Linked DNA regions of Homo sapiens. Each later gene encodes a partner of the first gene's protein in a complex. Each region holds a gene or a part of one and is shown on either strand. Other genes may lie near its edges. The genes, in order: SMARCE1 and PHF10.

Region 1 (3,827 bases):
GTCAAATACTACATTGGAATGTAGTGTTGGTGAGAATTTATACAACCCAGAATGGCTGTAAAGTTTTTAATACCTGGTTTTTGTTTGCTGTATTCATAAATAACAAGTGCCTTCTATTAATGTAACTTCAAAAAAGCCCTCTCACCCTGTAGTCAAGCTGGAACTGAAAGCTTGTAGCTATCAAATGAATGTCTATCTTGATAAGCATATTGCTTAGCTTGATAGGTTTTGTTTGTCTAAATTTTTCATTGTTTCTGCATAATATGTACTTCATAAGCATATCAAGTTTTATGTGCCATGCATATTTCATGGTATCTGAAAAAGAATTCTGACAAAGTGTGTGTATGTATGCATTTCACAATGCATACAATTTTTATGTGCATCAATACATGTTTTTCCCTGGCCTAAACATGTTGTTTCACAAGTGTAATGGATGGCAAGGTTTTCAAATGATAAAGAACATTTCAGTTTAAACAATGAACGGAATCAATCATGGATCTTAATGTTAATGCAGCAATTTTTTCACGGGCAGTAAACAAGAATGATTGCATTTAATAGCTCTATACAGTCACCTCTTGATTATCTATGTTAATGGAATAGAAATGATAACTATAATATTACAGTAATTTGTCTTTTGGTTTTGTGTAAGTATTTTGCTCTTAACTTGGATGTAGCTGTGGGGGATTCTCAGTTAAAAAAGTGAGATTGTTCGATGGAGACTAGGAAGAGAAAGTGTACTCCCTATCTGAAGTCACTCATCTGTTTCTTCCCATTCCTTCTTGGCGAATGTTAAGAACTGAACATTTGGCGTGGACACTAGCTACATAGTAGATTAATTATAGAGAGTTGTTGGACATGGAAAATTTGGTGTTTTGGTCCTTTGTGGACATTTACTTTGTATTATTGTCCTCTTAACACCAAATTGAAGTATAATCAAACTGCTATATGAAGAAGGGCCTAGAAAATGTGGAGGTTTTACACTACTTGCCCTGCTTTCTATATCTAGTTTAAGCTGTTAGGACTCAATGGCTCTGATTTTGACCATAATAAAAGCATTTTGATTTTACTATGACCCTAGTTATGCATTACTTTTGGGGGTGAGGGGAAGCTCCTGTATGGTATTGTTGTGCGCAGATTGCATTAGTGGTTTTCAAGGAACGAATCTGTGAAGCCCTGTCCAGTAGCTTGTGGTAGGCTGTAGAGAACATTGGGTTTCCCTGATGACTCCAGTATACTTGGGTAGTTCTCAGACAGTAAATACTTTGTATAGCATGTCGAGACCTTTTGGAGTGCTTATGATAGCTACAAGATGGAATTCACTCCTAGTCAGTTCTTCATTCAGATGATGATTAACATTCTCTTAAGTACAGGTGTGAAAACACATTGAGACAAAAATGTCTTTAAAAACAGCCTATTTCTGTACATTAATAGAAATTCTGCCCCAGAAGAAAGCTCTTAAATAAGTTCTTGCTAGAGAAACAGCTGAGAATTGCAAAAGAAACAACAACAAAAAACTGAGTAACCAAGATAAATTTCACAAAACCATGAACTTTATTCATAGGAGATTTCCTAGGACCTTGCTCTTCTGTAAGCACAGTTCTACCCGCCTCCCCATTGGAAATTGAAAGCAGAAAATTGGAAAGAGAGTTGCTGCTAGAGGTGGGTTTCCTGATAGTAGCAAGGAAAGAAACAGTTCAAAAATGGAAACACATTCTCCAAAAGCATAGCCCCTAGGCCGTTGAAAGAGTCAACAACAGATTTTGACATCTGACAGAGGGTTACAGCACAGCAAAACAGTGGTTGTTTCTAATTGAATCTTATCCAGAAAGGGTCTAAAGTATGTTCAGCTTTTTTTAAAGAAATGTTTAAGACATTGTAGAAAGATGTCTGTCTGAGACGTTAAATAAATTGGAGGTGTGTAATGATATAAATCTTTACTATCCTGAAAACCATCTGGAATTTAACTTTATTATTGTTTTGGGGTGTTTTTTTAGTTTGGGTTTTTGTTGTTGTTGTTGTAAGTTGACTGGTCTCAATATACAGATGATTTGTGTACCTTTCTTTGGGAGAAAGGAGGGGAAATAGCAATTCCATTAATATAAAATGTGATTCTTTGAAAAATATCAAAGAGCAAATACTACTGTGTTTTTAAAGTGTTTTAATTCATATTAAAGCTCGGAAGCATAGGCATTTTAGAATTCTTTACCTCTTTAATTTCAAAAAATTTTGACAGTGGTCTTACCACCTCAGTTATGGGCACAATTCCAACTTTATTTGTAATCCATTTCATGGAATTCTGAAGGTTTGTGTTGGATATGAGTTGGAAATACTTTCTAGTAACTTTATGTGTGAAGAAGCAGACTTGTGTGTGTCTGTTCCTCTGAATCCATAAGGTTAGTCTTATAGGAATTCTCTTTCCCCTTGAAAGAACTATAGACCCTGATACAGGTTTCCCTGTATTGGCTGCCCATCCTACCACTTTTGACAGTTTCCATGCCCCTGGCCATCTCACTCTCTTACCCACTGCTGGCCAAAAACAGTGTCTGTCTACCTGGGCACTAGCATGAGGTGTGACAAGAATGCATGGGAGGAATGGAAAGAGAGGAAATACTGCTTCCAAGGCGAAATGCTTTGAAGAAGTAGAGTTATAGGGATGGAGAGAGACCCTTGTAGGAAGAGGAAACATTTCTTGATCATAGTGGAAAAGGACACAAACATGCTAATCCCTGAGCCCTCAAATGAAAAATAAGGTTATGATTGGGGTCCCAGCCCAGAGTGGAGGAGTATCTCTGGGGTTTTATCATAGCAACAACAGAAGGGGAAGCGAACAAAATGTTACTTTAGTTTTCCTATAAGGATTTGCCAATCCTGTCTTTCGATAATTAAAATAAAGCCAACACTTCATTTCTCCAGCCTAGCAGGGAGAGTCAATATCAGAGATCTCCTGAAAATTTGCAAATTGTCTGAAATAGCAATGATTTTTCTTATTCTGGGTCTTTAATCAAATGCAGTCATGTATATTAACAGGAGACTAAAAAGTTCAGAAATAGATACTTTTAGATGGGTGTTATCTGGGTGGTCTACCAGAGGCTGTCTGGAATCTCACCTAGACTTTAAGCCACAGGAAAAACTGATCACTTTATCTTTCTCTTTCCTTCTTTTTTTATTTTTTCTTTCACCTATTTTTGCTTTACCTTTTTAAAAAATATTTTTCAGTCTTCCCTCCGCCTCCTTTTCTTCTGTCTCTCTTTTCCTGTACATCACATCTTTCCTTTTCCTCTGTCTTTCCCATAAAACTGAACATTTTTAATGGAATGGAGCTTCTTGATATAAGACCTCAAAAATAACGTAATCAGGCCCGATATCTGCCACTTCTCTGTTCCTGATAAACTTGTTTGCTTTTACACTGTGATTAGGACTCAGGACAAAACAATGTGTGACTTTTAATTCACACTTCTCATTCCCCTTTACAAGAAAACCACTAGGTAACAGACAGAACCTTAAGAGAAATAAAATCTCTAGCCTGGCAAAGGAGGTAAGGTGGTTTGTTATTTCACTAATTGTTTTTGTTTTTGAACCTGGGAAGTTGTTTTTGTGGTGGTGTTGGGAGTACATTCCTAGTGCTAATAGGTTAAGGCCCCTGTAGACAGTGTGAGAATGGTAAGTGTTAAGGGTTCAGATCCTGCTGCAGATAATCAAGTGTTGACTGTATGTGTAATGGTAATTGAGCAGAATAAGAGGGTACCAGGTAATGTCCTGAACTTGAGACGGTTGATATATAACCATATATTTTCAATGTATGGGTTACTGTGTAATATTTTATTTGT
Region 2 (3,827 bases), on another chromosome or scaffold:
GAGTGCACTGAGTTTCAGTAATGACATTTAGCTCTCTCAGGTAGAGTTTCTCCTTGTGAGACAAATCTCGTCGCTCTAAATCTCCAAAAAAAAGATCAAAAGACTATTAAAAACAGCAAAACCTTATGCACTTGTAAAACTTTTAAAAGCTTAAAAACCTTGACTTTTTAAAGTATTCATATTACATATTCCAAATATTATTAAAGGGGCTACAAAAAAATTTATAAATTCAAGAAATAAAACTCAGCAAGATACAAAAGTTAGAATAAAATAGGAAATAGAATAATCCAAAGCAAGAAGGTCATATAAATAACTATACTAAACTAGTTCATGAGGAATAGCCTTTCTCAAATTCAGATACGGCTCATATAGCTAACTCTATTCCTTAGATCAAGAAACAATGGTAAAAATCCCAAACTTGACTATAAAATGATTTTTTCTAAAATTTTCCTCAGGAAATTCACCTTTCCCATTTTGCTTTTAAATCAGTTTATGAGCCATAGAAAATATCAATAATGAAGAGTGATGCTGAATGATAGCAGTAAATGAAACACAGCCAGGCGTGGTGGCTCACACCTGTAATCCTAGCAATTCAGGAGGCTGAGGCAGCAGGATAGCTTGAAGCCATGAGTTTGAGACCACGCTGGGCAACATAGCAAGACTTCACATCTCTAAAAAAATAAAAATTAAAAAAATCTGCCACGCGTCGTGGTGCACACCTGTAGTCCCAGATACTTAGAAGGCTGAGGCAGGGAGACAGCTAGCCCAGGAGTGCAAGGCTGCAGTGAGCTATAATCGCACCAGTGCGCTCTAGCCTGGGTTACAGAATGAGACCCTTAGTCTTAAAAAAAAACAGCAAGCACAAGAATATAAAATATAATCTACAGAAAAATTCAGAAGTTGACAGTGTATCATAAAGAATTACTATCAATTATAAATTAATCTATTATATAAACTAGTACCTGGATATTTCCTTTTAAAGGAGGTCACACCCAAATATTCACTGACTTGTTCTTGAAGCATATAGTATTCTCCTGTTTCATCAGGTGGCCATTTGTACTCTATCAAGTTTTCTGCTGGATAGTAACTAAAACTAAGTACAGAAATACATATTATGCATTAAATGTAGCTTTCATTAATTTTTAATCACTTTTATTGAGGATATTTTGAAAACTATTTTAAGTATTTAAATTATTTGCCTCCTATGACTTGACTTCCTGTGTATCAAAGAAAATTACAAAACAGGTACAAGGAATAGAAATAATTATCTGGTCTACCAAGTCAAAAAGGTATGTGAAAATAACATCTTTTATACACTGGGAAGAACGTAGAATCACAATTGCTAAGAACGAAGGCATTTTTAGTTTAAAGGACCTATGAGGGCAAAGCAAGGTGATGATGGTATCAGCTCTGACTTCTTTCTCTTGGGCTTAAAATGCATAGCCAGTATTTCATCCACCCAAAGAATAATCAACTTCTGTCTCTTGTCTACTGTTCAGTGAGTCATAAATAGCTGAGAAAACAGAACTCTTAAAAACCTATTATCTCAGTGCATCATATCATAAACCGTAACTGTTTGTTCTCAGATACTCCACAAACCCAGAAGCAAAGAATGGACCTAGTTTGAAGGTGCCAGGGTATCACAGTCGATCTCCATCCTGAGTAACAGAGTACAGATTTCAGGATATGGGCCAATTCAACCTCTATATTGGACATGGGAAAGTGACACTATGTTATGCATCCATCTATTTAAAAAGTAACCTTCAAAAAGAACAGTGTTCTCAAAAATGGTGCTGGGAAACTGGGTATCCACATGCAAAAGTATAAAATTGGACCTTTACCTCATATCACAACTCAAAATGGATCAACAACCTAAATATAAGAGCTAACTAGAAAACTCTTAGAAGAAAACATAGAAATCTTTCACAACCTTGGATTTGAAGGTAGATTCTTACATATGACACCAAAAGCACAAGCAACAAAAGAAAAAATAGATGAAAAATTTGGGCTTCATCAAAATTAAAAATTTTGTACAGGGACACTATCAAGACAGTGAAAAGACAACCCACAGAACAGGAGAAAATATGTGTAAATCATATTTTTGATGAAGTATTAATATATAAAATATATTTAAAAAGCTCCTACAACAAAAAAAACCCCAAATAAAAAATGGACAAAGAACTTGAATAGACATGTCTCCAAAGAAGCTATACAAATGGCCAAGCAGATGAAAAGATGTTCAATATCAGTAGGCATTATGAAAATGCAAATCAAAATCACAATAAAATATCACTCCACACCTTTTAGGGTAACTATTATTTTAAAAAATGAAAAATAACAAATTGGTGAGAAATATGAAGAAACTGGAAACTGTGAATTGCTGGTAGGAATGTAAATTGGTGTGCAGCCCCTATGGAAAACAGTTTGGCAGCTTCTCAAAAAATTAAACATAGGATTACCATATAATCCAGCTACTCCACTCCTAGATAAACATCCAAAAAAACTGAAAACACAAACTCTGAACACCAATGCTCACTGCAGCATTATTCACCTTGGCCAGAAGGTGGAAACCCAAATGCCCATCAACATCTGAATGGATAAACAAAATCAGTATATACATAAAATGGAGTATTATTCAGCCTTAAAAACAGAAAAAAAGTCTGACATATGCTACAAAGATGAACCTTGAAGATATTCAAAGTTCTAAGAGAAATAAGCCAGCCACAAAAGGACAAATATTTTATGGTTCCACTTATATGAAGTAACTAAGTAGTCGTATTCACGGAAATAGAAAGTAGAATGATGGTTGCAAGGCGCTAAATAGAGGGAGAAAGGGAGGTTATTGCTTAATGGTTATAAAGTTTGGGGTAGTGAAAGTTTTGGAAATGGATGGTGGTAATGGCTGCACAACACTGTGAATGTAACTGATGCCAATGAATTTCACACTTAAAAATTGTTAAAATGATTAATTTTATGTATGTATGTATTTTACTATCATAAAATTGCTTTTTAATTACACTCAGTAGCAAGACCAACTTTGATGGCACATTATAGAACAGGAAGAAAATATTCTACAATTTTTAATAATTGCCTTTGCCAGAGCTGGGGGAAAGGGAAGAGGATGTTAAGGCAAAGAGGAACATCACAAAAAATATTAATAACCGATAAAATGACAGTACCCAAGATCTTGACTTGAAGTTTCACAACTCCTAGAACTATCTCCTGAGCCCATTCGCCTCCTTTTGGATGGCTGGGTCCCATCATTTGAATTATCTTCATTATCATCCTATACATTTAAAAGATTCAAAAATAATAATTAGAGAAAGAATAAAAGAACAGTAAGTCTCAATAAATGAAAGACTGTCTAAGGACAACTAGTCATACAAGTATTAACTTCATATTATAATTAAAAGGGTCCAAGAGTTTGGCATGAGCAAGACCTGGAATAAAATTTAAAACTGATCTTCAATCCAATCCAAATAAGAACATTTTCAATGAACCCGTAAATGCAAATCTGCTTTGGTTTCTGCTCTTCATAAACATATCAAACTGCTGCATCACTCTAGGATTAAAGCAAACTCTCCTACCCAAGCTCAGGGGGAAAAAAATGTATGGATCATTTACAGTTCTCAATTCAACTTGAAGCCGGTTCATAGGACTATTTTAATTGACTACTTTAGGCATTTATGTCCCTGTGAAAAGGGGACATATGAGACCGAAAACAATTCTAACTATTCACTCTTCCTCTTACACTGCTAAAATTTAGCAAAAATATACCCTAATAAGGGTCATCAATCTATAATATAGCAGCACACACACCAAAAAAA

What was found.
Region 2: SMARCE1 (region 1) and PHF10 share a complex: the UniProt entries of both Homo sapiens proteins name them as parts of the neural progenitors-specific chromatin remodeling complex.

Annotation. Positions count from the first base shown.
Region 1 is NC_000017.11:40,637,813-40,641,639, reverse strand, and holds part of SMARCE1 (SWI/SNF-related matrix-associated actin-dependent regulator of chromatin subfamily E member 1), read left to right. Parts: intron 1-3,827. UniProt on the Homo sapiens protein: Involved in transcriptional activation and repression of select genes by chromatin remodeling (alteration of DNA-nucleosome topology).
Region 2 is NC_000006.12:169,717,826-169,721,652, forward strand, and holds part of PHF10 (PHD finger protein 10), read right to left. Parts: intron 3,287-3,827; coding exon 3,180-3,286; intron 1,094-3,179; coding exon 963-1,093; intron 82-962; coding exon 1-81. UniProt on the Homo sapiens protein: Involved in transcription activity regulation by chromatin remodeling. Belongs to the neural progenitors-specific chromatin remodeling complex (npBAF complex) and is required for the proliferation of neural progenitors.